2 linked regions of the Homo sapiens genome follow. The protein of the gene in region 2 purifies or fractionates together with the protein of the main gene of each other region. This does not show direct contact. Each region holds a gene or a part of one and is shown on either strand. Other genes may lie near its edges.

Region 1 (16,421 bases), on a different chromosome or scaffold from region 2:
TATTAATGTTATTTCTTACAGGAAAAAAAAATTAAGCAAAACAAGTGAAAAAGGCATAACGAAGGCCAACATAGTAAAATGAGTAACTGAGATTTCTAACATTATTTATTTCACCATGGACGGGTGAAAACCTTATAATACATTGATGCTACTCCAAGGATGTGTAACATGGAAACTATAGCTGACTACTGCAAAAGCTTCCTTTGTCTCCTGGTTTCTTTGCATGATTATCTCCCATCAATCCCAGGAAACTATAGGCCACAGGCCAAATCCAATCTGCATTATGGTTTTGTAAATAAAGTTTTATAGGAGCTCAGTCATGCCTGTTTGCTTACATATAATCATGGTGGCTTTCACACTACAACAGCAGACAACAGCAGGGTTAAGTAGATATGACAGAGACCACATAGTCTAAAATATTTCCCACCTGGTCCTTTAAAGAAAAAGCCTGCTAACCCATTTTACACCATAACCAGAACGCCTTAATACTCAAATTTAATCTTGTGACTCCCCTGCTCAAATTTCTCCAATGAGCCCCTGCAGCACACATTGTTGGCTCCCTATCAATAGCCATTCCTCATTCTTTCTGGCAGAAAAAATATAAGTCTATTGGGATATTTAATATCCCAATCCCCCTCCTCAGCCTCAGAAACAGAAATGTTTATTCTAAGCTAATCAGGTATTTACCTTCCCAGTGCCTGGTTTGGGAATGAGCATGTGGTGTGACCCAGCCAATGAAATGTTACAGGAAGCCCCTTGCATGCTTCTAAGTTTTCTCCCTGTTTAAAAGACACACGTGAAGAAAAGCAGCCCTTGCGATGTTGTGTTGTGAGAACAAGATGTTTGGAGCTGCTGCGGATTAGCCAACCACGAAAGGAGACGTGAGTAAAACACTGTCAACAGCACAGCTGAAAGAGGGACAGGTGGGATCCTAGGATATCAATGAATAAAAAAACAACTCTGGTTCCTACTGTTTTAGCCACTGCTCATCTAGTATTTGCAGTCCAAAGCATTCTACCTGGTCAATTCCCATGGCCCACAGGATAAGAGCTACTCATTTCTATAGTATTAAAAAGTCTATCATAAACTTGCCTTAGCTAAGTATTCACCTCACTCCCAACCTCTGGTATCTCACACTTTTGGTAATAGCAAAAGTGAACTGCTCAGAAACCCTGCCATGTTCACTCAAGCATCTTGTCTTCTGCACTTGCTGCTCTTCCTCCCAAACGGGCAATCTCATTAGATGTTCCTTCTGGCAAACACACAATCTCACTCCATGTTCCTTCTGCCAAATGTCATTCTTCTGCTTCTTTCCCTGAAAAATTCTTCTCACTCTGCATGCTTACATTAAATCCTGCCTCCTTTCTTTCTAAAGCTTTCACTCCTCATCACATATGTCTGGCACATAATCAATATCACATATAATAAATCATAATTATAAGATTCCAGTGGGCATCTAGCACACAGTAAGCACTGAATAAAGCAGCAAAATAATAAAAATGACAATGATAATAATAATAAGCTCCTGTCTGTGTTTTTGTGTTCTGTAGCCTTAGAAAAACTGCTTAGTATCTAAAAGACATTTGACAGTTATTTGTTAAGTGGACAAGTGAAAACATAAATAAAAATGTTTTCTTTGTAAATTCTGTTGAAAAACCACAGAAATGAAATAGAAACACTTCTGTTGTGAGCACCTTAAAGATTAAAACTACATCTATTCCATCTTGTCTCCTGCAACTTATAAAACCTAACTTACAGAAGCTCTTTGATAAATAGGTAGCCAAATTAAAGGTGTCCTCATACAGTTTGGATTGTACCATGTATTAGGTGTCCACATCCAGGTAGCATACTAGCATTTTTGTTACTGTGAAACATTTTTATATTTTTATTATAATCTGCTGACCCTTGCATTGGGAAAATTGTACATTATGACAATCTTTTGGCAAATGGTAGCAGAGCATCTTCTTCTAACAAAATTACTGTTATCATGACAATTAACCAGCTGGTGGAAGAACACATCTTGTTCCAACAAAGTAAATGCATCTCTTTCAACTTCAAAACAGGAGGAATGAAGTCAGTAATAGTGAGACCTTGTTGGCACAAGCATATGTAACATGATCTGTGCTTCACTGTTCTTTTGTGAACAAAAATTCCTTACTTTTACTTTTTAAATCTATGGTAGGACCTCCCAGAGCAGGGCTCCACAACTCCCAGGCCACAGACTGGTACCAGTCCACGGTCTGTTAGGAACCATGCCACACAGGAGGAGGTGCACAGCAGGCAAGCCAGGGAAGCTTCATCTGTATTTACAGCCACTCCTTATGGCTCATATTGCAGCCTCTACTCTGCCTCCAGTCAGATCAGTGATAGCATTAGATATTCATAGGAGCATGAACCCTGTTGTGAACTGCCCATCTGAGGGATCTAGGTTGTGTGCTTCCTATGAGAATCTAATGCCTGATGATCTGTCACTGTCTCACTTTGCCCCCAGAAGGGACCATCTAGTTGCAGAAAAATAAGCTCAGAGCTTCCACTGATTCTACATTATGGTAAGTCGTATAATTATTTTATTATATATTACAATGTAATAATAATATAAAGTAGCACAATAAGTGTAATGTGACCGAACAATCCTGAAACCATCCCCACCTTCCCCCAGCCCATGGAAAGATTGTCTTCCACAAAACCGGTCCCTGGTGTCAAAAAGATTGTGGACAACTGACCTAAAGTAATTCACTATCACAAGTCTTACCTGGGTTGCTGTTTTCAGAAGAGTATTTTGGCATCTGTTTTTCTTTGTAGTCAGAAACTAATTCGCAAATTCTATGTATAAAAATATAACAAATAAAATTACTGTTTTAAAATACTGATCTGGAAACTTACCAAATGTAAAATTCTTAGAGTATTTCAAACAATATCAGAATATCAGAACTTAACAGTATTATCCCATCCACTTATGCGTACGTTCTACAAACTTCTCATGAAGCTTCTAATTAAAGAAGAAAAAAAAGTAAGATGAAATACTCATAAATCGAGGGCACTGTGACCCAGTAAATTAACTTGCATTAGCCTGACATAATAGAAAGTGTCCCAACTCTAAATAAGTCCTAGCTCCATAATGAACAGCTATTTGCTCTTGAACAAGCTGCTTCTCTTAGGCTTAATGTCTTCTTCTACAAAGTGAGGACTACGCTGCCTTATTTTACTAGGTTGTTATAATGATTTAACAAGATAACATTTTTTTAAATGCTCAAAGAAATAGTAAAACAATGGAATAATTTGTTCCTAAACTTTATGACTGAAATTATCTTGGAATCCCAAATAAAACCCAGTGCGAATTTTGTTCATAGGTTCTAATATGCAAATGTTGTAGTTTTCAGGAAACGTTATTAAGTCCTAATTTTGCTTCTTAGTTGTCCTACTCTTTATGGCTTCTAATTCAGGGCATCTCAACTATGTCATAGTTTGTAACTAAATTTTTTCATAAATATCTCATTAAAGTAGATAATGTGATTGTCCACTATTACGGAGTTGATCAATCACGCCAAGGGCAGAAAAACCAATGGATGTTAAGACCTGACTTGGACCAATGATCCTTCTCTACAGACTCAAACTCTCAGCCAGATGTTTGTTACGATGATGCTTTATATACATGTTCATCTCCAGCTGACATGGGAGATGAAAACCCTACTTTTATTTTTTTTTTTTTAGGTTCCACGAAGAAGTTGCAAGTTGGCATTCTCTAATTTTTAACATACATACTAACAATATATTTTGTACACAACACCCCACATGTTATTTGGCTCTGGTGTCATCTCACAGACCACCTTACATGACTATTTTTATTGCGCAAATCACAATTTCAATGTTTTTGTGGCACCCATTCTGCTTTGATTCACACCATTTCCTTAAAGCTACTCAGCAAACAGTCAAATGACCTTCCAGTGACTGCGCAAAATATAGAATGCTTCAAAAATTTGTGTGGCCGCCTTATGCAAGGGCCAGCTCCTTGGGAGGCTGAGGCAGGAGAAATGCATGAACCCACGTTGCAATGAACTGAGATCGCGCCACTGCACTCCAGCCTGGGCGATACAGTGAGACTCCATCTCAAAAAAATAAAATAAAATAAAATAAAATAGTAAAGTTTGCAATTCCTCTGACTCAGTTTACCATAATTACAATTATGATTACTATTAAAGCATAAATAGTGAATAACCACAATATTGGGCTTTTCTCCCTAAATAAAAAAATTAATATAAACAATGTAGCTTATTATAAAGAGCCAAAACGATTTTAAAAATGCAGACAATTACCAGGCAAAACTGTTAGAAAGAACCATGTCAAACTTGTTTTTTTTTTTTTGAGACGGAGTCTTGCTCTGTCACCCAGGCTGGAGTGCAGTGCAACGATCTCGGCTCACTGCAAGCTCCGCCTCCTGGGTTCATGCCATTCTCCTGCCTCAGCCTCCATAGCAGCTGGGACTACAGGCGCATGCCACCACACCCGGTTAATTTTTTTGTATTTTTAGTAGAGATGGGGTTTCACTGGTCTCGATCTCCTGACCTCGTGATCCGCCTGCCTCGGCCTCCCAAAGTGCTGTGATTACAGGTGTGAGCCACCATGCCCGACCTACGGCAAACATTTTTAAAGTGAGAATCAATCAAACAATATACACAGGATAAACTCCATTCACTTATTTAACAAGTATTTATTAGGTAGCTACATCCAATATGCTAAGCCTTTTTCTAAGCAGTGAAGATATGGTAGTGAAAAATAAAAACCCTATTCATGACAGTGAGAAAAACACACAATAACAACAGACAGATAAGGCAAAATATACGGTATGTTAGAGGAGAAAAACTAAAGCAGGAAAATGAAATGTTTATGTGTTTGATGGGGAGGGTGGTGGGAAAGTTGAGATGGCCAGAAGAGTCCCTGCTGAGAAAGGGTTTTTTTTTTCTAATACAAAAAACCTTTTATTTGTATATCAAAGACTCTAAGAAACGATGACATAAGGTTAACAGCGCTGATGTCAAGATACAAATAGGTTTGAAGTTAGAGATGATAAATCACTTTGTTTCATTGAACCTTGCCTTGATTACCTTAGAGAGCATTCCTTGTATGCTCCCAATTGCATCTTAAGCATGATGTGTCTGGGTAGTACACGGCTCTTCCTCAGAAAGTGGATGTTCCTTAATGTGTTTCTTTTTACCCTTTTCTTCTTCTTAGAAAGGTGGTTTTAAATAAAGAACTGAAGGAATGGAAAGAGTAAGCTAGGAGGATATCTGGGGAAAAAGCATCCCAGACACAGGGAACTGCCAAGCACAGAGGTGTGTCTGGAGTCTTTAAGCACTAGGGGTAGATACGGGATGGCAAGAATTCAGTGTGGCTGAAGCAGAGCAAGGGAGATAATCAGGAGGAACTTTGACCCATACTCAGAGTGAAAAGGAGGCAATCAGAAGTGCTGGGGCAGAGGAATGACACAATTTGACTTATGTTTTAAATACATCCACTGAGTTAAGAATTGATGAAAAGGGAAGTTTTTAAAAGCCAGGACGATCAATTCCCAGTCTATGACACTCATCTAGACTGCAGATGACAGTGGCTCAGATGTACAAGATATGACTGGCTTCTGGACATATTCTTCAGGTAGACCTGACAAGATTTACTGAAAGATTAGATATGAGGTGTCAGAGGGACAGATGAGTCAAGAATGACACTGACATTTTTGGCAGAGCAATTGGAAAAGTTGCCCTTAACCAAAGTAGGAAAGACTACATGAGGTGTAGATTTCAGGAAGGACATCAGTAGCCCAATTTTGGATCTGACACGTGTGTGATACCCAATAACTAACCAAATAGAGACGTCAAGTAGGCAGGCTGATATAGAAATCTGGAATTAAGGAGAGAGATCTGAGCTGGAGACATACATTTGGAAATCACTAGCATATACACAATAGAAAAAGTCACGAGGGGCCGGGTGCAGTGGCTCACACCTGTAATCCCAACACTTTGTGAGGCCAAGGCAGACAGATCACCTGAGATCAGGAGTTTGAGACCAGGCTGGCCAACATGGGGAAATGCTGTCTCTACTAAAAATACAAAAATTAGCCAGGCATGGTGGCACACACCTGTAATGCCAGCTACTCAGGAGGCTGAGGCAGGAGAATCACTTAAACCCAAGAGGCAGAAGTTGTAGTGAGCTGAGATCACACCACTGAACTCCAGCCTGGGGGACAGAGTCAAACTCCGTCTCAAAAAAAGAAAAAGAAAAAGTCAGGAGAAAGAAGATTGAGGACTGAGCCCTGGGAAACAACAATGTCCAAAAGGAGAAAGATGAGGAGGAGCAAGCAAAACAGACCATGATGAATGGACTAGAAATGCAGGAGGAAAAGCTTGAGGGAGTGAGGTCCTGAAAGCCAAGTGAAGACGCCGTTAGGGAGGAGACGCCCTCCACTGGCTCAAATATTGCTGACAGATTAAATAAAATGAGGTGTAAGAAAAAATGCATAATTTACAGAAAAAAAATTGTGATAATCTTGAGGAAAAACAATGTTGGAGGACTGCTGAAATTGAAGACGCCGGTGTGAGATTAAGAGTGAATGAAAAGAAAATTTGAGTTCGTGAGTGTGGACAGTTCTTTTAAGGACATCATGCTTAGGAGTCATGACTGAGAATGTTGTAATTTTCTTCCACAGTCATGGAAAAGTAATAGACAAATAGTTTCAAGTTTTATATAACAGGTGTAGTTTTCAAATTTTATATAACAATAATATATTTTAAAGGTTATAAAAATTATACACATGTGGCATTAAAAATGCCAGACTGAGGTGTTAAATTCTTAAAACTATAGAACTAAAAGTCGCCTTGAACATTTCTAGATTACACATAAGCTGATTATCATTTTATTCATGCTTATGCATAAAGACCAAGAAATACTAAAAGTTTCAAGGAGAGTATTTCTTGCTTGATAAAATCAGCCAATTCTAGGACAACTGATACTCATCAAATATACAAAGTAATTGATCACAGCAAAATACTGGGTTCTATTAACAGGAATAAAGTGGGAGAAATGCAGACAATAATCTTATTTTATAAATGAAATTTTTAAAATTATATGAAGTCACTGTGGAAAAATATGGTGAGGTGAATACTGAAATATATCCTTTTCTCAAAGGAAGGATAATTTCACACACGCAGGGCACTTTTACAAATAAGAGTCACTTCACTTGCAGCACCTTCCTTTTAGCACAAGGGTCAGCAAACTAGCACCTTGGGCCAAATCCAGCCCACTGCCTGTTTTTGTAAGTCAAGTATTTTGGAACACAGCCATGCTTATTCACTTTACAGTCCACAGTGTCAATTAGCTGGGTGTGATGTTGCACACCTATGGTCCCAACTAGTAGAGAGGCTGAGGTGGGAGGATCACTAGAGCTCAGAAAGTCAAGACTGCAGTGAGCCATGATCACACAACTGCACTCCAGCCTGGGAAACAGAGTGAGACCCTGTCTCAAAAATAAATTAATTTATATAGTCCACAAAGCCTAAAATATTTACTAACTGGCTCTTTGCAGAAAAAGCTGGCCAACTCCTGGTTTAGCAGATGAAAGATCCTTTGATACATTTTAATAAAAGTTTTACCCAATATACTGAAACGTTTATATTAAATACAGATCCCCATGTACAATCCCTTGGCAATATTCAGATTGAGGGTCCAATATTTCAGCACTCAGGCACTGACATAAAAATTTAATAACTAGCAATCTTGTTGCTAACAAGGTACAGCATCAATATAGCATGTAGCTTCCATTTGCAACACAGGAAATATTACAAGAATTTTAACAAGAACTCTTAAGATGTCATCACTGATGCTTTAAATACACTTTAATTGTGAAATAATCAGTATACTCTAGATCTAACCTCACTTGTAAAAAATGGTTGCATACTACATTAATTTCTGGGTATGAAAATTGAGCTATTTCCTATTGGTAATGATTTACTTTTGATAATGATAATTTCCTATTGATAAGGATCCATCTTTTTGATATAATAATGCTGTAATAAATGTCCTTATACATAAGTATATATGTAACATCTACACAAATATCCTTTACATATATTATATATCCTTATTGTTATACATGTGTTTGTGAATATGCTACTAAATTAATGTTCAAAATGTATTTACCAGCAGTGTATGAAATGTCTTTTACAATGAAACCATTTCTTTTGCAGCAACACAGATGGAGCTGGAGGCCATTATCCTAAGCAAACTAATGCAGGAACAGAAGATCAAATGCCACATATTCTTACTCATTAGTGGGAACTAAATAATGAGAACTCATGGACACAAAGAGGAGAATAACAGGCACCAGGGTCTACTTGAAGGTGGAGCGTCACGGGAGGGAGACGACCAAAAAACTAACTTTTGGTGTTTTGCTTATTATGTGGCTGATGAAATAATCTGCAGTCCAAATCTCCATGATACACTTTACCTATATAATAACCCTGCACATGTACCCCTGAAACTAAAAGAAAAGTTCACTAAAAAGAAAAGAAAATGCCTTTTCCCTCACATTTGCCAATACTGGTTATTTTTCAAATAAATTAATGCCTGGAAAAATGGTAACTCATTGTTCGCTGATTTTCATTTTTCTGATTAACGGGCAAGGCTGAATATCCTAGTAAAACTATAAAATTTGTTCATCATGAATATTAGCCCAAACTAGGGTTAGTTTGACAGCACATAGTTATCTCCTGTTCAATGTTGCCATAGGCTTACCTGTGATACTCTTCACTTTCGTTGTCAGGAAATTGCTGATTTTCAGGTGTTCTGCTCTTCCTTTGAGGAATTAATCCATCATCACCATTGCCAGCAGTGACACCATTACTCAGGTTTTCTAGTAATCCCACATTATTACTTTCATGCTTCTTCATTTCTTCTTCAACCTTGAGTGGGATATTAAGGATAGTTATCACTTTATTGAATAAAAAGAACCTTTTTAATTGATTCTATCAATTGACTCAGTTTGTCATTATTTTAGTCATTAAAAATATTTCACACTTAAATTTGATCATATATATAGAAATATTACCATATAACTTTAAGATGTAATTATCATATCATTAATATATCACAGAAATTTTTGTAAAGTTTGCTTCATTTCTGTTTCAATGAATGAAACAGAATTTTCCAAAATTCAAAAAGGGCCCTCCTTCATTTTATGCTTTTATTCTCAATCACTCTTCAGAATCTTATGTATGTATTTACCCCATTTGACTCATGGGAACACGCAAATAAAAAGACAAAGATGCAAAATGTGTCTTCTGTCTTTACCACCTAGATTTTACATTAAACAGTCAGATTTAGAGGATGACACACTGTGCGGCTTCAGGAACAGAAAGGAAGTTTGCCCTTTTCTGCGCTAAGATATTCTTCTACCCCACTGCCTTTGAGCATTCTTTTTTCATTTGGTTGCTGGGATATCAAAAACATGATGGTGCTCACTGAAAATGGGAGCCAAAGTTTGCCACAACACAAGAAGCAGAGTGAAACTGCTGACGTGCAAGCATGGAATTCCAGAAAATGAGATGCTCCCCAAATTTCACATTGAATAGCCATACAATTTTCTAGCTGGAAGATACACAGAATAAGAAGCTATCTTCTTTAGCCACATTATCTATTGATAATCAGACTAAAACCAAGAAAGATAAAATGATTGGTCCAAAGCTCCTAAAGTGGCATTACCTAGCATTTTATGGCACCATTCAGGATTGTTCCATAATAATCAAAGAATATCTCTAGGCTTTGTATCTCTTGAAAACTCAAAGTACAGAATTCTTTCTGAGTTAAATATTAACTTTTTCACTCATGATTTATGCTACTTACATGATAGGATCATGTATGCCTACACTTACTACATTTTGTTAAACAACATAATGTAAAAATCTAATTCAACAGAAACATTTGAATATGAAGGTATACCTCTCTATCACCATCCTTATTTATTTCTGGTTCTTGAGACATTTTCTGCAGAGGCAAAAACAGAAGGTTAATTTGCTTGTTGTGTTTCTGTGATGTCTCCTCTTTTGGAGCGCATGTTTTAAAAAAATTTTATTCTTAACTAATGAAGTATGGACGATGAAAAATTAGAAAATAATTAAAATTAAAATTTAACTGTTAAATAAATAATAATTAAAATTAAGAATTAACTTTTTAATCTATGTTTAGCTACTGCCACATTACTGGCTTCTGACTAACATGTGAAAAATAATTCACCTTAGCCCAACGAAGAAAAAAAACGTGAACCAGCAAACTTAACTTGGTCACCATTTGTTTGGACTAAACTTGTTATGTGTTAAATCTACCAAAAATGAATCAGCAGATGATTTGTAGTGTTCCAAAATCTTCCTCACTTGAAAAGAGTTTACCTCATGAAACCCTAACTAGTGAGCCCCTACAGTGCACTGAAGTGCTTTTCTAAAAGATTCCTAACTGGATTGTAGGCACCATTTAAATTATTAGGAGCCGAAATCAACACCAAACAGAAAGAGATGCAATTTCTCAAATTTTAATTGAGATTATATACTGTCATATGATAGTGTTATGTATCCAGATTATCTGCTTAAGTCCAGTTCTAATATATTCTAATGTGTACTAATTACAGTGGATAAAGATTTTTTTAATAATATGTACTAATTTTCTGCAACTGAAATAAATTAGAATGTTATTGTGTTTGTGCACTAACACCAAAGGTTCCATTCTGCAAGATATGATTCTTGTAATAGGCAGCTGTGTTGCTTTTATGACCTGGTTCCCTCCCTGAACAGAAACGCTGAGGTCAATGAGAGACCATAAGGCAGAATATATTTTTAACCTTGGTATCAGTGACTGACAATATAAAACTGCAGATTTTCAATCACTGGCCATGATTACTCCTTAACCATGAATCCAGCTCAGGGACCATCAGAGTTACATTGTTCATAATTCTATTGCTTAATAACATAATCCAATAATTGATGTACCTTCTTCATCATGTTCGGGTGTTGTAAAAATAAAAGAACAAAGTTCTGAAATTTGTTTTTGCCTCTATTCCAAAAGGAAAGATTAGCTATAAGCTAATCAAAAAGGCAGATGAGAATATTTTAAATAAAAATATTATAAAATAAGAGTATTTTAAATTTTATAGTGGTTATGTTTTTTAAGTTAAATATCAAATGTTAAATTAGAATCCATTCTTCTGTTAATGAGATTACTGAATTTATTAAAATAAATTTTAACAATCTATTAAAAAATTCTTTAAAAAATCTATTGATTCTCAAAACCTAGTCTGAAAGGTAATTTCATTTGGACTATCTAATATTATTAAAGCAAAGAAAACAACATTAAATCAAAAATTTAAATTTAAAATTTCCCATGCCTCTGGCTGGCTATTTTCACTGCCTTTGAACCTTTGTGACTCTTCCTCTGATGTCAGCTTTAAGTCTTGTTCTGTTGAGAAATCCATATATTCAGTTAAAATGAACCACTTAGAACAGTTAAAAACTATTGCCTTTATAAAAATAGATTTAAGACAACATTTTATTTCATAAATTGAGTGTTTAGTTTTTCATGAAATAGTTATTTAGGAAATAATTCTCCCAAACTTCAACAAACCACTTGGGGAGACACCTGATGTCATTCACTCACAAATTCATCCACCCAACATAAATGAACAAAACCACCAGAAACACAACTTTAAAATACAGTAGAAACATATAAGGTAACACAGTATGTTGTTCTCCACTTCCTAATAGTGAAGCAGTAAATGTAAAGAAAAGGAAATTTAGTTTTAAAGAGAAACAAGTTTTCCCGCACTTAGCTAGTCTGACTCTAAGGATAGTAACAAGCAGGGCCCAGGAAAGGTCATGGTGACCCTGCCTGAGAAGCCAGAGCCCACAGGTATGGGCTCCAGACATCCCACAGCAAGGTTAAGAAAACAAAATCCTTTACTGTCTCCCCTTCCCCTCAGCATTCACTCAGAGCTGTTTTTACAAATGCATATTATTTGCAAGTTCCTGTTGTCCTTCAATGCAGCTGCAAGGTCATAAGCTACGCTGAGGTTGCAAAACTGTCACTATATGATTAACTGCCTTTGTTCTGCTTCTGTAAGCTTGCCTACATAAGCCAAGCCCTGTCTTTGTTCAGGGCTCAGCTTTCGGATGCAAATCCGCTGAGCTGGTGCGAACCTAAATGAAATCCTCCTGTTTCACCCACTTGGTCTCTCCTGCCTCCTGTTTTCTGCAACAATAGTACCTTACAAATGATTTCAAAAATTACTACTGACACCTTTATTAGTGTACAATCTCTTCCCAATATCTAAAATGTTTCCCTCCACGATTCAGACATATTTATTTTCATTTTTCTTTCTTTTTTTTTTTTTGAGCCAGGGTCTTGCTCTGTCACCAGGCTGGAGTGCAGTGGCGCAATCTCAGCTCACTGCAACCTCTGACACTCCCTGGTTCAAGCGATTCTCCTGTCTCAGTCTCCGGAGAAGCTGGGATTACAGGCATGCACCATCATGCCCTGCTAATTTTCGTGTTTTTAGTAGAGACGGGGTTTCACCATTGGCCATGATGGTCCTGATCTTTTGACCTTGTGATCTGCCTGCTCCAGCCTCCCAAAATGCTGGGATTAGAGGTGTGAGCCACCACACTTATCCTTATTTTTATCTTTTAAAACAATGCTATGAGAACGTCTTCCTTGATTCTGCATGTCTTTCCCCAGATAAACAGGTACCTCCTTCCTTGAGGCTGCCTTAGTACTTCACTGATTTTTCTACTGCATCTTTACCACCTGAACTCTACATTATTCCTCCACATGTCTGTCCCGTCTGCTCCAAGACTGCAGAGGACAGTCTTGCACATCATCTTACTCACATTTTACTCAGAAATTTCTTATTGAGTCCTGCTAAATACATGCTAGGCATTAGGGTTTAAAAACAATTAAAATAAAGCATGTCAGGGATGGCTTTTCTAGAAAACATGCCCAAGCAGAGACTTAAATATTGAGACTAGCCAGATTAAAAGGGGTAGAGGGCAGGAAAGGGTGACGGCATGCCACACAGCAGCAAGAGCGGGAGCGAGGCCTGAAAGAGTGAAAATATTTGCCTACAATAGAAGGATGAGTGAGTAGGGCATTGCCAGCAGCTCAGTAATGCCAGAGAAAGGGCACACAGGGAAAAGGCCTAAAGATGGAGAGTGGGGCAGAAGTCAGATTATGAAAGCCTTATGTGTAATTTTAAGATGCCTGGACATTAATGTTCAAGAGAGGTCCCTGATCCTATCTGCATTTAGATATAGATCACTTTAAATGCCAAAACCAATATTCCTAGTGAACCATTATTCATTAAGACAAGGTGACAGATAGCTCATGTGGACACAGCTGAGATGATACTATGTAGCAAATTCTCAATAATTCTCATGAACACTTGGAAAGTCAATTCTATAAGAAGTCAGAGAAATTATAATAAATCACTTAATACTTGGTTTGGGAAGGTGATTTCTAAAGTTATAGTGCCTATGAATTTAACTAATAATTGTGAATTCAGAGCTGTGACAATAAAGCAAAGAAACCACATTGCGTTTGAGTCAGCAATCTTTAGATTTCTATCTAGTCTTCCTACCCAGTCCATAAATTCTAACTCCTGGTACTCACTCTCAAGTTTATGTTAAATACTAGCCTATACAAAAAACACTCTTTCTCTTTTTTCATTTTGTTATTTATATATTGCTTTGTTTAAAGGAAGAACACAAAAATGCCCTGCTAAAGGGATTCTGTTTGGTTGCAGGCTGCAAGCGGGGAAAAAATCAAAGTGTATTTTGCAGAAAATGATTTTTTAGAAGTCAGAACTATGACATGAAGTCAAGCAGGGCACTCTAGGACCGAATTTGCTGTGCTGCCTTCATATGCTCCTTGCTCGCTCTTTTCTGGCAGCTGTGACTCACACAGGTCATGGAGAGTATCATTCCCTAAAAGGAACAACTCCGATATTCATCTTTATCCATTAAGTTCATCTGTCCCATTCTATGTCTGTGGATGCTAACTTTTGATCATTGATGGTGATACACATGGACATTTATCATCAACTTTCAGATTCTTGGATCTTTGACAAGTCTTATTAGTGAGAGTCAAACTAGTAGGATGCGAGTTATAAATGCTGGTTATCCAATTACCTACTCAAAATATCCTACATGAATATTCCATTAAACGTGCATAGAAAAACATTAGTCATTCCTGCTGACCTGCTGCTCTTTGCTCTTCAGTATTCACCAGAAAATTTCCTCCTTCTTCCTCACATCCAGGTTAAATACTACTGTACAACCTGGAAACCTGGAAATTATCTGACATTTCTCTCTGTCCCCCAAGCCTTTCTCATTCAATTATTACTAAATCATATTGACGATACCTCTCTTCTGCCTCTGCTTTATATTCCCACTGCCACTGGGAACACAAACATTTACAAAATGGCTTTTATTTAAAAAAAAAGCCTGCCAACTATTAATGTTATTTCTTACATGAAAAAAAATTAAGCAAAACAAATGAAAAAAGCATATCACCAAAAAAACAAAGGCCAACATATTAAAACAAGTAGTTGAGATTCCTAACTTTATGTATTTCACTAAGGACGGGTGAAAACCTTGTAATACATTGATGCTACTCCAAGGATGTATGACAAGGAAACTATAGCTGACTACTGCAAAAACTTCCTTTGTCTCCTGGTTTCTTTACATGGTAAAGAACCTTCCATCAATCCCAGCAAACTATAGGCCACAGGCCAAATCCAATCTGCATTATGGTTTTGTAAATAAAGTTTTATAGGAGCTCAGTCATGCCTGTTTGCTTACATATAATCATGGTGGCTTTCACACTACAACAGCAGACAACAGCAGGGTTAAGTAGATATGACAGAGACCACATAGTCTAAAATATTGCCCACCTGGCCATTTACAGAAAAAGCTTGCTAACCCGTTTTACACCATAACCAGAATGCCTTAATACTCAAATTTAATCTTGTGACTCCCCTGCTCAAATTTCTCCAATGAGCCCCTGCAGCACACATTGTTGGCTCCCTATCAGTAGCCATTCCTTATTCTTTCTTGAAGAAGAAATCCAAGTCTATTGGGATATTTATTATCCCAATCCCCCTCCTCAGCCTCAGAAACAGAAATGTTTATTCTAAGCTAATCAGGTATTTACCTTCCCAGTGCCTGGTTTGGGAATGAGCATGTGGTGTGACCCAGCCAATGAAATGTTACAGGAAGCCCCTTGCATGCTTCTAAGTTTTCTCCCTGTTTAAAAGACACATGTGAAGAAAAGCAGCCCTTGCGATGTTGTGTTGTGAGAACAAGATGTTTGGAGCTGCTGCGGATTAGCCAACCATGAAAGGAGACGTGAATAAAACACTGCCAACAGCACAGCTGAAAGAGGGAAAAGTGGGATCCTAGGATATCAATGAACAACCAAAACAACTCTGGTTCTTACTGTTTTAGCCACTGTTCATCTAGTATTTGCAGTCCAAAGCATTCTACCCGGTAAATTTCCCATGGCACACAGGATAAGACCTACTCATCTCTATAGTATTAAAAAGTATATCATAAACTTGCCTTAGCTAAGTATTCACCTCGTTCCCAACCTCTGGTATCTCACACTTTTGGTACTAGCAAAAGTGAACTGCTCAGAAACCCTGCCATGTTCACTCAAGCATCTTGTCTTTTGCACTTGCTGCTCTTCCTCCCAAACAGGCAATCTCATTAGATGTTCCTTCTGGCAAACACACGACCTCGCTGCATGTTCCTTCTGCCAAACATTCTTCTTCTGCTTCTTTACCTAGAAAAATTCTTCTCTCTCTGCATGCTTACCTTAAATCATACCTACTTTTTCCCAAAACTTTCATTCCTCATATGTCTGGCACATAATCAATATATAATAAATCATAATTATAAGCTTCCAGTGGGCATCTAGCACACAGTAAGCACTGAATAAAGTAGTAAAATAATGAAAATGGCAATGATAAGAAAAAGCTCCTGTCTGTATTTTTAATTGTCTGTGGTCTATAGCATTAGAAAAATGGTTACCATCTAAAAGACATTTGATAGTTATATGTTAAGTGGACAAGTGAAAACATAAATAGCAATGTTTTCTTTGTAAATTCTGTTGAAAAAGCACAGAAATGAAATGGAGACAGCTCTATTATGAGCACCTTAAAGATCAAAACTACATCTATTCCATCTTTGTCTCCTGCGACTTATAAAACCTAACTTACAAAAGCTCTTTGATAAATAGATGGCTAAATTAAAGGTGTCCTCATACAGTTTGGACTATATAATGTATTAGGTGTCCACAACCAGGTAGCATACTAGCATTTTTGTTAGTGTGAAACG
Region 2 (16,421 bases):
AGGTAGTTATATGTATATATTTGTGTATACATATTGGTGACCTTGTTTTGGAGAGGGATTAATGTCGTAGGCCCTGAGGTTCTGGATTTTTTTCCGTAGGCCTGAAATAGTTGCTCAAGGCATTGGATCTAAATGATTTTGTTGTATGTTACTACTGTGTTTAAAATAAAACATTAGTTGCTGGGTGGTCTTGATTAGTTAATCATTCCAGAATACAATATCTAACACTGCTCTCCCTAATGATCAAGCTATAAGATGGAAGATCAGGTTTTTCTAAATTTGACTGATGATTCTCTGTGTATGTAATGGTATTATTAGAACTTGCCAACGTATGTGCAGTAATTGTGCTGTCTTCAAATAGTTTAAGGGACAAATTCACTGTTCTTCCTACCGATTTTTCTTTATTCCAGTTTCCTAGGTAAACTGCACTTAATACTTAACACAATATTTGCCCACTGTATATCCACCATAATGCCACAGTGTGGCGCTGCTGTGCTTTGGCCGAATATTTACGAAATCACCTTTTCCTATTGCTGTCAAATTTTTTATTTTGTGGACTAAATAAGATGCTCTAAAGTATATGAAAACGCACTCGTATCGGATATTTTTTGGCTGTACATAATGAGTTATGTGATTGCTTTCTAGTGATTGTGCCAGATTGATTGCCTTTTATGTTAATCAGTTTTTTAATAGCATGCTTATTTAAATTTTTTTCCTTGATTGCCCCATCTTATTTAGTTAAAAATCAGAAGGCTTCTTGGAGGTTATAAAAATAAAATTTGAAGAAAGCAGCAAGCAGAATGACACTATAGATGACAAAATGCGTATCTTTTTAAATGCAGATTTTTTGGACATTAATCTGTTAAAACTACAGTTTCACTCAAAATATATAATGCAGGCTTCCAAACCAAAAATAGTTTATTCCTCCCATTATTGTTACATATGCTGTTTGTGCCAAAATCCATTCAACAAGAAACAGTTTTTGATTTTTGTAGATATAGTGTTCCCAATGTTTAAAATTTCCAGATTTACTTTTGTTACTTCAGAAGCTTTCTGTCTTTACTTTCTTTGAAGTGTTCTTTAAGATGTTACTTATCAAGCCAGTATGTACTATTGATGCATTGAACAAAAAAGTTTTTATTGAGGGGCTTCTATTAATGTTAGTCTCAGGAAGGTGTTGAGGAGTAAACACCAGACAACAAAGGGATCCATGGCCCCAAAAGGGGTAAGAATTTCTTGCCATTGAACTCTTAAGATCACAATTTAATATTTCGGTGCCTAAAAATGAATGAGGATTCTTATTTTGATCCATAGTACCACATATCAGCAACAGGATCGGCAGAAATACTTCCTGATGAACTAAGAGGAGACTATTTTGACTCTTGAAGCGGGAGTACTGGGAGAATCATAACTATTTCATGACAGAACCGATTTTTAATATACTCTACCCTTGAGATGATTGTGGGAAAGGTATTTGGTTACTGCAGGAGAAACTGTAAACTCTCTGTGAAGATAAGGACCATGTCTGTTTTGCTCATCATGCGGTTCGTGGTACCTAGCACTTGTATGCTTTTAGTGAGTGATCATAATGGAATTCTAATTGTTGAATTCTCATAGAGAGAATTAGTGATTAAATGCCAGTGAAGTATTAAGGGGATGTTCAACATCTTCAACATCTTTTTTCTCCACATATTTATTTACATAAGAAATGCCCATAGAGTGTGTGGTATCAGCTATCATAAGAATTGTGTTAATCATTTGAGAATGTCAAATTTTGGAGTTGGTTATTTTAGAAGTGGGAATTGGAGTAAGCCCATATTAACAGAATCCACAAAGGGATTACCTTCAAAAGGTTTTCTGGAAAATAATGTAATAATGAACTAAGGATACAGGGCAGAAGAATATTTAGGAAATAATTTACCATATAATAGTTAACATTCATGTATACACTTAGTAAATGTTTGTGGTTCACTTACCTTGGAACAGGCTCTCTGATAGGCCCATTAGGCTGTAAGTATAAAAGGCAAGAACAGTGATCAATTTACTTTTAATATTAGTTGAATATGTATTTGTGTAAATATTTATACATATTATGCATATTTATATAAAATGAATGATGGTAGAAAGTTTGTGCTTGGTGGTAAAGACACACAAACACATAATTTTAATGTTTTGGAAAATTCAGTACCAGAGGCCTACCATGAATTTTAACATGTATCTTACCCCTTGGTTCTGGGAATCAGATCCTTTGAGTTGTATCTTTTGTCATTTATTTTTAGAATGCTATGTAATATTTTGTTATCTATGAAATAGTGGCACTAAAGATATATTTCAAGTTTTTAAAAATGAGCTTATTTTGCAACTGCAACCACGAAAGAGTAATGAAAATCTTTTTATTTGAATAAGTCATATTAGAAAACAAGTTGGAAAACATTTTGAAGAAGGTATTAATTTTTTAGCCGTGGCAATAATGTAGAATAAAAGAACAGTTTTCAGCTTTCTGCTAATTTTCCAAAAATTGTAATAAAAGAATTATTCCCTTTTTTTCTCTGTTACATAACAAAATAAAACTTTAGAATAATATGGCTCTACTTTAGGAGTATTTTAATTGGGCTTCTGATAAGTATCCTTTTATATAAGAAATTTCCTGTTATTTAAAATTTATAACAGCTTTGGCTGCTAAATTTTATCAAAACTTTTTGGGACATATATTGATACAACCATATGGTTTTCCTGCTTACTTAATAATTTACAGAATATCACCAATTCCTGTTAAACTACTCTTATATTTCTGGGCTAACCACTGCTTGTCATAGTGTGTTTACTCTTTTAATTTTCAACTTGCTTTGACTTGCCGAGATTTTGTTTAGGATTATTTTAAATGTATTCAAAAGTATGGTTGCCCTTTAGATCTTTGGGGGGTGCTGTCTTGAACAGTTTTAGTAATAGAGCAACTTTTTATTTTTTAATAGAACTGCTATTTAATTTTTTATTTCTTAATTGGCAGGTCGTGGTTCAATTCCAGAATTCTTTCATATTATGAAAAGAAAGTTTACCAACAAAGAATGGGAAACAATCAGAAGCTTTAAGGATGAGTGGACTCAGCTGGATATGTTTTATAGGAATTGGGTATAATTCTTTCTAATTTTGAAAGCAAAAGTCTATAATGATTCCATTATCTTCACTTAAAATCAGAGTCCTTGGTTACCCAGTAGTGTCCAAACAGTGCTTGAAGTAAATGGGTGATTGCTTGAGAATTTTATGGTTTTTATGCATATGGTATTACATTATAATGACATTTCATTTTAAGAAAATTTAACCTATATGTAATGCTCAGTTAGAAAGTACTTACTTAAAGCTAAAACAAATCATTACCATTGATAAATAATATTTTCTGTCATAAAGGAACTAATACACATGAGGTCCTATATAACAAACACTGATAATATATACTACATGCCAGAAGACATTACTTCAAGCTCTAAGTTAGTTAATTTAATGTACATAACATCCCTATGAGGAAGGTATTGTTATCATCATCGCAGGTTACATACGAGGGGATACAGGCACGGAGAGCTTAAATGATTTGCCCTAAGATCATATGGATGGTTTGTTTTCATGCTGTAAGGGTTTTTTTTTAAAAAGGTTATAGCTATATAGCCATAATGTAGTATAGCATTGAAACTCCCTATCTTTTGGACCTGTAGATTCTATGAAAAATTTTTGTCCACCAAATTCTAAGAGAAAATGTCTTTCTGTATCTTAGGCACTTAAGGAAAGCTTCATAAAAGCCATTGGTGTTGGACTAGGATTTGAATTGCAGCGGCTTGAATTTGATCTATCTCCATTAAACTTGGATATAGGCCAAGTTTATAAAGAAACACGTTTATTCCTGGATGGAGAGGAAGAAAAAGAATGGGCATTTGAGGTAAGAAATTTGTTAGAATTGTTAAAACTAAGAATTTCTATTTTTTATGCATGTATGTGTGATTAATTTGGGTAAGCTAGTCACTGAATTTGGACGCAACTGAATCCAGTCCTGCTGCTCTGAAAGTGAAATCAGGGCTACTATGAGAGCATGTAACATTTATACTAATACTTGAAAGAAGTTGAAAGATGAGTCATTGTGAGTTCAGTACGGGAAAGGAAAAGAGGCTCTGACAAGGAGCTTTGCATGTATGAACAGCCAAACGCAGCCACTTTGGCTGGGCCATAATGAGGGTATTTAAGAGAGATTCCAGATCAGGCTGGTAGATCCTACAAGGTATTGATCAAGTTAAATATTTTGGTTTCTTACTGTATTTTGTTTCTGTCACTGGCAGTTCCTGGTTGCTAGTGAGAGAAGCCAACACACACAGCCAAAAAACCCCCCAAAACAGTATTATAGGTTACTAGAGTGATTCAGTAACTGTCCCCAGTATTAGCTAGAATTAGGGGATGAAATATTTAGAGCTCTTTTTGTCTCCTAGTTTTGCCTTTCTCTACATTTTGGCTTCAGTTTTCTCCCACCCATGTTTCTCATTCTGTACACCAGCTTTCTCAGCCTCTCTGGTCTGCATGACAGAAAACATGGCTCTTGCATGTAACATACTGTTGCATGTAACAGTTTATAAACAATTTACAGTTTAAAAACCTAAACAAACTGGTAAACTCACTTTCTGTTCCAAGCCCAAAAATCCTAGAGAAGGGATGCCCTGGCCTAGCTTGGGCTAGTTGTTTATCTCCAGACCAGTCATTATACTGTGATTGGTCCTGCTTGTGTCCAGCAAACGGGCTATAGAGCAGTTCTCTGACTTACAAGATCATCTGTTGAGATACTGAATACTAGAAAATAAATGAGATGTTAAGTTTGAGATACCAAACATCTAAGTGAAGATGTCAGATAGGTGAATGGAATGGAGGGCTGGGCTAGAGGAAAAAAATTATAATCATAATGGTTATAAGTATAACCATTATGTCAATGGTAGTTGAAACCATGGATTTGAAGTTGAAACTGTGAGATTACCTAAGGAACAGCTATATATTGAATCTATGAAGAGAGAAGTGGAAATTGAAACCACAAGAAGTTAGAAGTAAGGCCTAGAATAGAGCCCTGAGAATATATATGGTCCCCAGTTTATGATGGTTTAACTTTTTTTGACTTTATGACAGTATGAAAGTGATAATGCATTCAGTAGAATTCATATTTGCAGAACCCACGCAACCATTCCTTTTTTCATTTTCAATACAATATTCAATAAATTACATGAGCTATTCAGCATTTTATTATAAATGAGGCTTTGTGTTAGATGATTTCGCCCACTGTAGGCTGATATAAGTATTCTGAGCACATTTAAGGTAGGCTATGCTATGCTATGATGTTTGGTAGGTTAGGTGTATTAAGTGCATTTTCCATGTAACCATATTTTCTTACAGTGAGTTTATTGGGATATAACATCATCGTGAGTCGTGGAGCATCTATACTAATATTCAAAGGTGAATTTGTGGAGGGGACTGATAAAGAATGACCAAAATGGTATAAGAGAGTAGTGTTGGTATCCAAGGACAGAAAGCATTTTGAAGAAGAGAGCTGGGTCAATAACTGCTAAGGACTAGATGTGGTGGTTCATGCTTGTTATCCCAACACTTTGGGAGGCCAAGACACTGCCTCTACAAAAAATTTAAAAAATGAAAGTTTCAAAACAGTATATCCATTAGTTAACATTCTTTAGTGTCCAACTATCAATTGTTAGTGTACATACACCTCTCATTATACATTAAGCATGATTCTTATTTATTGAAATATTCAATACATATAAGAACTATATCTTATATGCTAAATTTCTGAAAAATTATTTTAGATATTTTTAAATTTGTACATTCCAGTTACTTTTTTCTTGTTTGTTTAAAGAGAAAACAGAACAGGGCTACATAGCAGACTTACTTTGCGATAACTTTGACATAGTAAATCTTCTGATACTTAGTCTTATATTTTTCCTCTTTAAACATATCTTAAATTTATCCTTACTGAATTTCACTTTATGCTGACTTGGGTACCTGAAGGTATGAAGATAGGAAGAAGAAGATAAAAAATGAAAAAGCTCCCTAAGTACTATTTCTAATTGTAGTTTCTTCTGACGTTTTATGGAAGAATGCTTTAGTAAAGTGGTTTTTCAGTGAAAAGTTTGTTCAGCTTTTAAGTGTTTACAATTTTTTCTGGTAACTGCTTCAATATATATTACATTTTAAAGTCCCCTTCCCCTTTGTCTCATATGTAGAGGAAAGTAGAAAATTGCATATTGGTTATGTTTTACCTATAAATTTCCACCATGATTTTTCATACGTGATAGTATGTAGTTTACTAAATGCTTACATACCAATGTTGCAACTTGATTTTTTTTTTTTAACCTTGTACTTTATTATACATACTAACATCACCAGTGAAGGACAGATAGCTGTCAAGTACCTCTAGATAGGGCACATCACCTGTGTAGTATTCTGGTTGAGAATGCATAACCTAATCCACTCATTAAATATCAAACAAACCCCAAATGAGCAATATTTTATTAATAAAAAGCAGATTTAGGGAATTTGTACTTTAAAACGTTAATGTCATAAAAAACAAAAGAAAGGCTAACAAGACATGACAACTGAATGCAATACTTGTCCCTACTTGCCCATTACTGGGCTCCTGTTCTGGAGGAGGGATATGCCACAAAGGATGCTATTGGATTAATTCACAGAATTTGGAATACAGCTAATAAAGTATTGTTTCAATGTTAAACTTACTGACGTTATTAACTGCTGTGGTTATGTAAGAGAATGTGCCTACTAGGAAATACATGTTGAAGTATTTAAGAGTAAAGGGCCAGCACATATGTAACTTCTAAAGTAGTTTAGCGGAGGTGGGGAAATATATATATGCACGCGTGTGAGTGTACGTATATGTATATATATATAGAGAGAGAGAGAATGAGATTTAGAAAATGTAAACAAAGTTACATCTAGGTTTACATATTTTATAATCTATATTTATTTACCTTTTATCTTTCAGGAAAGCAAAATAGATGAGCACCATTTTGTTGCAGTTGCTCTTAGGAAACCCGATGGATCTAGACATCAGGATGTAAGATTTTAGGATTTCTCTTTTTTCTAAATAGCATGAATCAATGTTAAGTTTGCTCTTTATTGATGGAAATAGTCATTTGCCTTATATCAGTTTAGAGAGATTTTTTTAAGATTATAGATATAGTAGTACTCTTTATTAGCAAATATTAAGATCACTAGGGATTTTGTAGAAACATTTTTAAAAAGCAGCTGGGCATGGTGGCTCACACCTGTAATCCCAGCACCTTGGGAGGCTGAGGCAGGCGGATCACCTGAGGTCAGGAGTTCCAGACCAGCCTGACCAACATGGAGAAACCCCATCTCTACTAAAAATACAAAATTAGCCAGGTGTGGTGGCGGGCGCCTGTAATCCCAGCTACTCAGGAGGTCTGAGACAGGAGAATCGCTTGAACCTGGGAGGTGGAGGTTGCAGTGCACCAAGATCGCACCATTGCACTCCAGCCTGGGAAACAAGCGAAACTCCGTCTCAAAAAAAAGAAATGTTACCCGCTTCTTCACATTCGTATACGCTTAAGTATTACAACAAAAAAAAATATGGTAGTACTATCATGCTACTCATATTTCCAATAGACATTCAAGATTATCTTAGTCATCTTAACAGTAGTTTATTTCTTGGTGAATTGGGGTTGTGTTGAATGTAAGAGTACCACGTTGAAGGTTGATGAGTAATGGAATTACCTTGCAAATTGAATCCACTCCTCCTTTTAAAGTAATATCCTGAATTATTCCCAAAGTTACAGTGTCAAACATGTAAGAGACCTTGTGTCATATTGTGGCATAACATCAGTTTCAATTATTCAGCCACAATGTTTTTATACTTTCTTATCCTATTACCTGGTAAGCAAGTGGGGGAAGAACTTAGGGTCAAAGACTCTTAGATTTCATATAATTGTGATTCTGCAGAAGTATTTATTTAAGGAAAACGTATGTTTTAATGAAAACTACATGCATTCCATTATTTTTAGTAAATCAACATGAAAGAATGTAGCATGATCAATATATATGCATCGTTACTTCCACAAAAGTAGCTCAGGCAACACACCAAACCTTTGATAGATTAATCAAAGGATTACGAGTTCTCCATAGATTATCTTCCTTAAAAAGGGATGGCATGTTAAAATTGACACCTGTTATCTGAAGATGTTCTGACCCAGGTTACTCGTCCTTCTGTTTTTAAATCTCAGCTTCACACTCCCTGCAAAAATACCTTTTGTTTTCATAGAGCTTTATAATTGTTGAAACATTTGCATATTCAGTACTTTTCATTTCCCTGGACAGAGCCTGTTTAGGCAACAGTGGCATGTTGGGAAGACTAGAGTACAATTCACAAAATTGGGTTCTAGGCCCACATCTACCATTTAACCTATGTTTTGAGCTTGGACAAATTGTTTGAATTGTTTGCTCTTCCTGAGCCTCAGATTCCCCATCCATAAAATTAAGATAACCGTATCACAACATAGCTATGAGACCAGTCATATAAGTACTGGACCTTGACTTGTTAAAGCGCTATACAAAACCCAAGTACTATTTATACTAGATGTGTAGAATATTAAAGAGGGTCTGCACTGGGTTCAATTGTGAACAAGGGCTCTATCTCAGAGAGTAAGATACAGTTTAAATTTAATATTGAATAAATAATTTCCTAAAGAAGTATACATCTCTGTATAGTTATGGCAGTTTTATCAGACCCACCTTTTAGAGTAGTATTTCACAAAAGTTCACTTTCTCACTCACCTCTATCAAAATAACCTGACTGCTCGTTAAAATTACAGATTTTGATATCCCTTCTAACTGATATGTAGTAAATCACACTTTTTGGATGTGGGGCCCAGTAAATCTACATGTAAAATACCACAGGTTTTTGTTATATAAAAAAGTTCAAGAATCAGGTTTTCTATTTCATTTTTTTTTGATTTGTTGTATTGGCAACACTAATATAAGAAATACAAACAATGTTCTAGGAATCCTATGTTGTCATTTAATACTACTGAAATGTAAGTTGGTCTTACTTATTTTCATGATTATGAAATTGATCATAAGATTAACATGCAATATAACAATAAGGTAATCTGCTTTTGTCTTTTAGGTTCCATCTCAGGATGATTCCAAACCAACCCAGAGGCAATTTACTATTCTCAACTTTAATGATTTAATGTCATCTGCCGTTCCCATGACACCTGAAGATCCTTCATTTTGGGACTGTTTTTGCTTCACAGAAGAAATTCCAATACGAAATGGTACAAAGTCATGATGATTCCCTGAGTAACAAAGGGAAATGAAAACTGTTTGTGATCTTCCGTATTCACTGAAAAATAAATGCTTGTTTAGTATCAAATTTTATTTCACGAAAGTTTTTTTAAAGAACAGAAACTTTTCCAATTAAAAAAAAAAAGCAGACTTCTGGTTCAAGATAGCTCACTGGAATACATGTTTACCTCTTTCTTTCCTAAATTGCATTGAATTGATAGGAAGGATGGCGGAATCTTAAAGTGATACATGCTAACTGTAGAAAAAAATAGAAAATGCACATAAGCAAAAGGAAACATTTAAATGCTATCTTTCAAAGATAACTACTCTTAAAACCTTGAGTATCTTTTCAGACCTTTTTCTTGGCAAATGAATCCATATTGACATATTTGATTTTTTTAAAAACATGGAAACGTACTGTTTTGTAAATTCTTTTTAACTGCACATCTACTGTTCATAAATATACCTCTGTAACATAACTTTTTGTGGTTCTAATGTACTCTGTTGTATAGCTAATACAAGTTAGGATGCTTTTGGCCAGAGGTAACAGTGTCCAAATATAATTGGCCTAAGTAACCTAGGAAATTGTTTGACATAACACAGGGTTCAGGGGTGTCATTAAAGACACACTTTTTTTGCCTTGACCTCAGTTGGTTTGTTTTGCCTTAGGCTATTCCACCTCTCGATCACAAGAGCTGCTGCTATAACTTCCAGTTTTACATCTTTGTAAAATTGTATCTCAAAGGCAGAAAAGGCCATTTCGTCTCTCATTTGTTTTATCCATGAGGAAGATTTTTAACAAAAGCCTCCAGAAGATTTCCCCTCAGTTTCCATTGACTTAGATCAGGTTACAGAGAAAGGCAATGTCTGACATTTTTGGTCTCTGTTAGAAGTAGACTCTGTTGAAAAGAAAGAAGCTAAGCTAGGTGTGAAGAATGGAATTGGAAGCCCACTGCCTTCCCATAAGAAAGGTTTACCATAATTTACTCACTTTTTTCTGTGTTAGACATTTTGATTATCTGCAGTTTATTACTACAAGCAGTGGCAGAGTGAATGTCCTTGTACATTTTGAGTTACATGCTTAATTATGTCCTTGAGAAAGTTTCTAAAAGTGGAATGATTGGTTTGACTGGTTCATAGGGCTTTAATTATACAATTTACCCCTCTAATTAGTACTATATGTATGTGACTTCCCTCCCCCTGCCAGAATACTCCTTGGTCAATTGTAGGTATTCTTTTTGGTTTAATTTTTGCCAATGTAATTAAAAAATGGTATGTCATTTTTAAAATTTGTATTTCTTTCATTACAAATAAGATTGTTATGTCAGTATTGTTATTGGCTTTTCGTATTCCTCTTAACGTGAACCGTCTGTTCATTGTTTTTACCTGTTTTCGTTTTAGCAAGTAGTACTTAATTTAAAGTGTGAACTTAATATATAAGATGCCAGGACCATCATATTGATGACAAAAATCTATTATGTGGTTGTAGTGCATGTCTTGGAGTTAAACTCTTAAGTATCAAGAAGTAAAATAATTTCATTGTTTCTGTTACTAACATTAAAAGTGTGCAAATTGTATAAAATTAGGTACTTCGATTAGTAAAAGAAAAAAATTTGAATGTTTTTTTTTTTTATTTTATTAAGCATGCCCAGTTATGCCAAGCATAGTAAATAAAGGTCAAGTAGCATTTATAATAGAGGAAGTATTGTTATCCCTAGCATGAGTGTAATGGTGATATGAAAAACTTTGTCTTGTCATTATAATAATAAAAAAATGAACATTTATTATGGAATTTCTATGAGCCTGACACTGTGTTGGATTTGTGTTTTTTAGTTTTTAGTTTTTCTATTACTTTTAATCAAAGTTTCATGTGTACACAGCTTTAAAAAATTGGATAGATCTGTAAGATTTTTTTCCTAAGGAAAAAGGCCATTACTCTGACTTCTTCCATTTCCTGTCTCCAGGGCAAGCCCTTTCAACTCTTTTAGATGTTATTTTTTTTGTTATTTATTACCATGTCTCCAAATGACATGCTTATATTGCTTTTACTTGATTTTTTAATTTTAGGCATTGTTTCTTTGATTTTCAAAATAAAGCTTCCCTCTTCTGCTTCCCAGCATTACACATTCCCTTTTTATCCCCTTTTCTCCTCCCAACATAACAATTCAATGTTTACATTGTTGACTGTGATTACACTAAGGATATGTGTACATTATTGAGATTATGTAACTGCTGTATACAGCTGAGTGATGTATTATCCTTACCATATACTAATTTCTTATTTCCTTTAGTTAATTGACTGCATAGATTTCTACCATATGTATGAATATCTTCTCTATATGTTCAAACGTAACAATGATTCCATCAGTTTCTTTCATCTTTTAAAAAATCACTCCTAGAGCAATCTGCTTTGTCCAAGTTGGACTTTGTGCCTTCTATGGCTGGTGTACAGCTGTAATCCTGGGATCTCCTTTACCATGATCCTGGGGATTGTCTCTCCTGTGTTGGATTCCCTGTTCCCCATTTGCTATCTCTCACATCTTAGATTTACTCCATTCATGTGAAATAGCTTTTTGAGAACAAAGTGGGCATAGGAGTTACATTTTTTGAGACTTCTAAGAGGAAGGGACAGTCCTATGCAGAGTGGTATAGGGATCTAGTTGTTTCTTAAACCCATTATCCTATCCCCCTCCACATGAAGCTCTTTGTTAACGCTGTATTCATATCCACTTTTTCCAAGTATTTGATGGCTGCATTTTGCTGAGTTTTGTGCTGGGCTGGCACATGCTGCTTCATACTCATGTCTGCTGGGTCCAGTTATAACATACTGACCAATGTATGGCTTTATTGGTCTCTGTTAATGTGTTTCCTGCATAGGAACTCTCATAAATTTATTTTTAAAATGAATCTGTATATTTGTGTCTCTTCCATTTCAGACTCAGAAATTGAAAAGATTTGGATAAATTTTCAGTTAAATTTTTCACTATCAAAATTAGAATTGTTACCTATTCAGAATCTGAAACTCAAAAACCAGTTAGGTTTGAGTAACTCAACAGCTCCTCACTAGTGGAACTATTACCATCTGAACTTGAGGACCAAATAGATTTATAAATACACATATGCAAATATATCTTTGGTCAAAAATATTCCTGAAAACAACTCCAAGTATCAGTACGTTTAAAGAGGATATGAAGAGAGCTAATGAATGATGGATTTCATTTTTATGGGGGAAATAAATATACCTTCATAGTATTTGTGAATTTGGGATTGGCAAAGGTCTTTGGATGTATTCCCAGTTTATCAGTTAATGTCAGGTAACTGCTGTATATGTCTTATGGTATTTATATTAGAAGCTATTTTGCATCTTAAGCACTCACATATCAGGCTATTTAATTCTTATAACTCTATGGAGTTGTATTGATGGGGAAAGTAAGTTACTGAGTTCTTGAACAACTTACTAAAGGTTATATATTCATTGAATACTGAAGCTTGTTATTTGATCAGAGTTAGGCTCAGATCTTTAGATCCAAAACCTCAGTCAACCACTATACTTAGTGGTGTGCTGGTAAATATTTAACAACCAGCAATCCTGGGGCAGGGAAGAAGAGACCTTTATATGTAGCTTTTGCTTATTCCATGAAATAATGACGTGTAACCAACACCTAGGTTTAGCACATGTTGGCATTTTGTCATATTCGCTTCAGATCTTTTTTCCTCTCATTTCAGGAATAAAACAAATGCAGCTAAAGACTTCCTACCCCCTAGTTACCACCCCTTCATCTTTCCCTTTCCAGGGATAATCTCCAATATTTGTAATTTTATGCTGTTATGCGTTTACTATTTGTATGTATAGTGTTTTGTGATTAAATCTTACATTTCCCTATTAGGATTGAAACATTAGGATGGAATCTCTTTGTGTGCTACTTAGAAGTAACAACAGTGTCAGAATAATTGAGCTCACTTAAGCCCACACTTCTCAAGGAGTATACATACTTAGGAGTAGGCACTGGTGTGTGGTAGTAACTCATCAAAAGATAGCAATTGGTCATCTAGAGGCATTCGTTTTATCTGAAATTTTGGAAAGAATCTTTTCATAATAAAAGTATTACAGACATTGTAAGTAGCATGCAAATTTGCCTGTATTTTAAGTAAAAAGGTGTGGGGCTTCAGAGGAATTTTCCTGCCCACGAGTACATAGTTGCTGTTCTTTTAGGGTCATTTTTGAATGAAAACGAATTTCATTTTGAATGTTTTTCATTTTGAATGAAAAAACATTGGAAAGGAGCCAGCATTAGAAGGGGAAAAAAGTAACATTTGTTGAGTACTTAAGCAGTAGAGCCCAAATCTTGGTGTGGTATACCCCTCTGCAGGTCACCTTTAGGGGACTGACCGTGTTGCAGGTGTAAGACCACTTTTTTACTATCCTAGAAGCCTTCAGCAATAGGCAAGTGAAATCCCATAAATTTGATGCTCCTGATAGTTCCATGAGTGTTTTCGGTTGTTACTTAGCACCCTTTAAAGCTCTTCATGCTTTTTCCAGTGTTGCATGAGCAAGAAGCCTGCTAAACTAGTTGTTCTTTTCCCCTCTAAATCCACTATCTTTCACCCTTCACTACCGCAGGAAGCTGACTTCTATGTACCTTGTTGGCCAGGCTGTCTTTTCCTTGATCGGGTTTTGCAAATAGAGGTGGGGGAGGGTATTAGCAGAGGACTAGGTAGAAAGGGAAATAGGATGATTATCCACTTGCCTTCCTGCCCTGCAGTGGCTTGGAAATAGCTGTGTTCCTCAGCATCACAGCTTCTGACATAGCCTTCTCCATATATACATCTCATGGGTTCAGGAACAACTTTTCCCTGCCTTTTCATTTTAGAAGTAGAAAGATCTTGCTCTTGCTTAGCCTAAGCTGCTGCACCATCTCCATAGATTTTTGTTATTCTTGCCTACACCCTCTTTGATCATTACTTTTGGTTGTGCCATCTGTTTCCTGCTACAACCCTGACTAATACAGTAATTTGTACCATGAGTAGTCCTGGGAAAGTGGAATTCTGGAATTGGATTGCTCACATATTTGATGTATATACAAATAACTTCCTTGTCAGGGAAAATGGATGCTTATCATTGGTGGCAAGTGGTGATGTCACAATTGCTTACATCATTACTAGTAATGTCATGGAGTCATGGAATACAAGTGGAGTACAGTGTTGGAAGATCAAGGGGCTGTGGCACATAGTCACTATGGTCATGGTAGAGATTACAGAGATCGTTAGGAGGACTGGCTCTTTTGAATGTCTAGAGCATATACACAGGGGAAAGGACAAATTGAAAGCAAAGGGAAAAATTGGGAAAAAAACAAAGCATCACAAAATCTATGGCAACTCTAGGGGAATATCTTGTATTTTGTAGATATAGCTAAGACTCAAACCTAGAGCTTTTATTGTAAGGGCTGCTGAGTTGTAATACCAATTACTGGCCAGTACTGGGTCTCACATGCTAAGGTAAGGGCATTGGTATGGAAGAAGTGGGGCCTTCAGAAATGAGATGGGAACATTTGGATCGCCACAGGAAAGGCTGAGAAGCTTAAGCCTTTTACATTTCCCTGAAACTTTCCTACTGGCAGAGGCAGCCCCATTTGTCTGAGGGGGAAGTCTTACCTCCTGATACAGTTTCAGATGTCATGTTGAATTCTAATCCCCAATGTTGGAAGTGGGGCCTGGTGGGAGGTGACTGAATCATGGGGGCAGATTTCTAATGAATGGTTTATCACCATCATCTTGGTGCTGTCTTTGTGATAGTGAGTTCTCGTGAGACCTGGTTGTTGTAAAGCAGGTGGCACCTCCCCCTCACTCTCTCACTTGCTTCTGCTTTCTGCCTACTCCCCCTTCACTTTCCTCCATGAGTGTAAGCTTCCTGAGGCCTCCCTAGAAGCTAGGCAGATGCCAGCATCATGCTCCGTGTAAAGCCTGCAGAACCATAAGCCAATTAAACTTTTTTCTTTATAAATTGCGCAGTCTCAAGTGTTTCTTTATAACAACACAAGAATAGCCCAGTACGCATCTCCACTTGCCCTGCAAAGGAAAAACAGTGTATCAATGAATTCACCTGAGATGGTTCTCTCATAAGCAGGTATCAGTTAACCTCAGGATTTACATCCACTATCCATCTTTACTTTTTGGAAAATAACAAATACCCTAAACAGAGAAGTATAAGATCAGGTCCGGAGGAAGGGCCTATTCAGAAGAGTTGCAGAATATTGCCACTTTGCATTGTAGGGATTTGGAGGACAGAATAGGAGTGGATTCTAAGGGTATTTGACCAAAAGGGGTTACATCAGATAAGGCAGGCATACTCACAGAAAATGTGAGTTAATGTGTTGGCCTGAGAATCTGGGAATGGTGATAAGTCTGTCACATTGGTTAACTAAAACCTAAACTCAGTGGTGGCCTACAGTCAACTGTGTTGAAATGTTAGAACTTTCCTGACTGAAAGAGTCCAGAGTCTTAGGAAGACAGGAATGCGGATCTGTTCTTTGCTAATCTGCTCATTCATCCTCTGAGGGATGGGCTTAGAAGACCATCACTTCACCAAGGATGTTTTTTTAAATCCATTAGTAAAGGAGTACCTTGAAAAGCCTTGTGGTATCATCTCTGTAGATCAAAGATGCTGCAGTGAATTTAGGTTACTTGTTTTCAATGGGAATAATGCGATTCCAGAATTGTTGAGATCATGAGATGGTACTTGAGAGTAATAATCAAAGGGTCTTGTGCCACAGGGGTTTCTGGTGATGGTTCATTGATCACAGGGTCTCTAGGAGTAGATTAAATGGGCAGCCTGCAAGGATCTGTTTGACACATTAACAGAAAATTTCTAGGTCTGGTGGACAGACACTTGACTGAAATCACTGTGAGGATGATCCACTGCTGCTTTAATTTTTTAAAGAACTTAGCCATTTTATAGACTTAGGATCTCTTAATGAAGGGGGTAGCTAGATCCTTTTGACAAAGAATCCTGCAATGCAGTCACAAGTATACAAGAGAAATCTTCTCCCAATCTTTTCTAGGGACACCTG

Evidence for each region.
Region 1: the proteins of AASDHPPT (region 2) and POTEI purify together in Homo sapiens (affinity purification with mass spectrometry; 3 studies listed by BioGRID and IntAct, with this or other methods). This does not show direct contact.

The regions. Positions count from the first base shown.
Region 1 is NC_000002.12:130,479,251-130,495,671, forward strand, and holds part of POTEI (POTE ankyrin domain family member I), read right to left. Parts: intron 11,491-16,421; coding exon 11,420-11,490; intron 10,030-11,419; coding exon 9,985-10,029; intron 8,949-9,984; coding exon 8,782-8,948; intron 4,630-8,781; coding exon of another isoform or gene 4,564-4,629; intron 2,824-4,563; coding exon 2,753-2,823; intron 1-2,752.
Region 2 is NC_000011.10:106,087,550-106,103,970, forward strand, and holds the end of AASDHPPT (L-aminoadipate-semialdehyde dehydrogenase-phosphopantetheinyl transferase), read left to right. Parts: intron 1-3,007; coding exon 3,008-3,129; intron 3,130-3,766; coding exon 3,767-3,928; intron 3,929-7,033; coding exon 7,034-7,105; intron 7,106-9,193; coding exon 9,194-9,358; 3' UTR 9,359-11,146; downstream 11,147-16,421. UniProt on the Homo sapiens protein: Catalyzes the post-translational modification of target proteins by phosphopantetheine.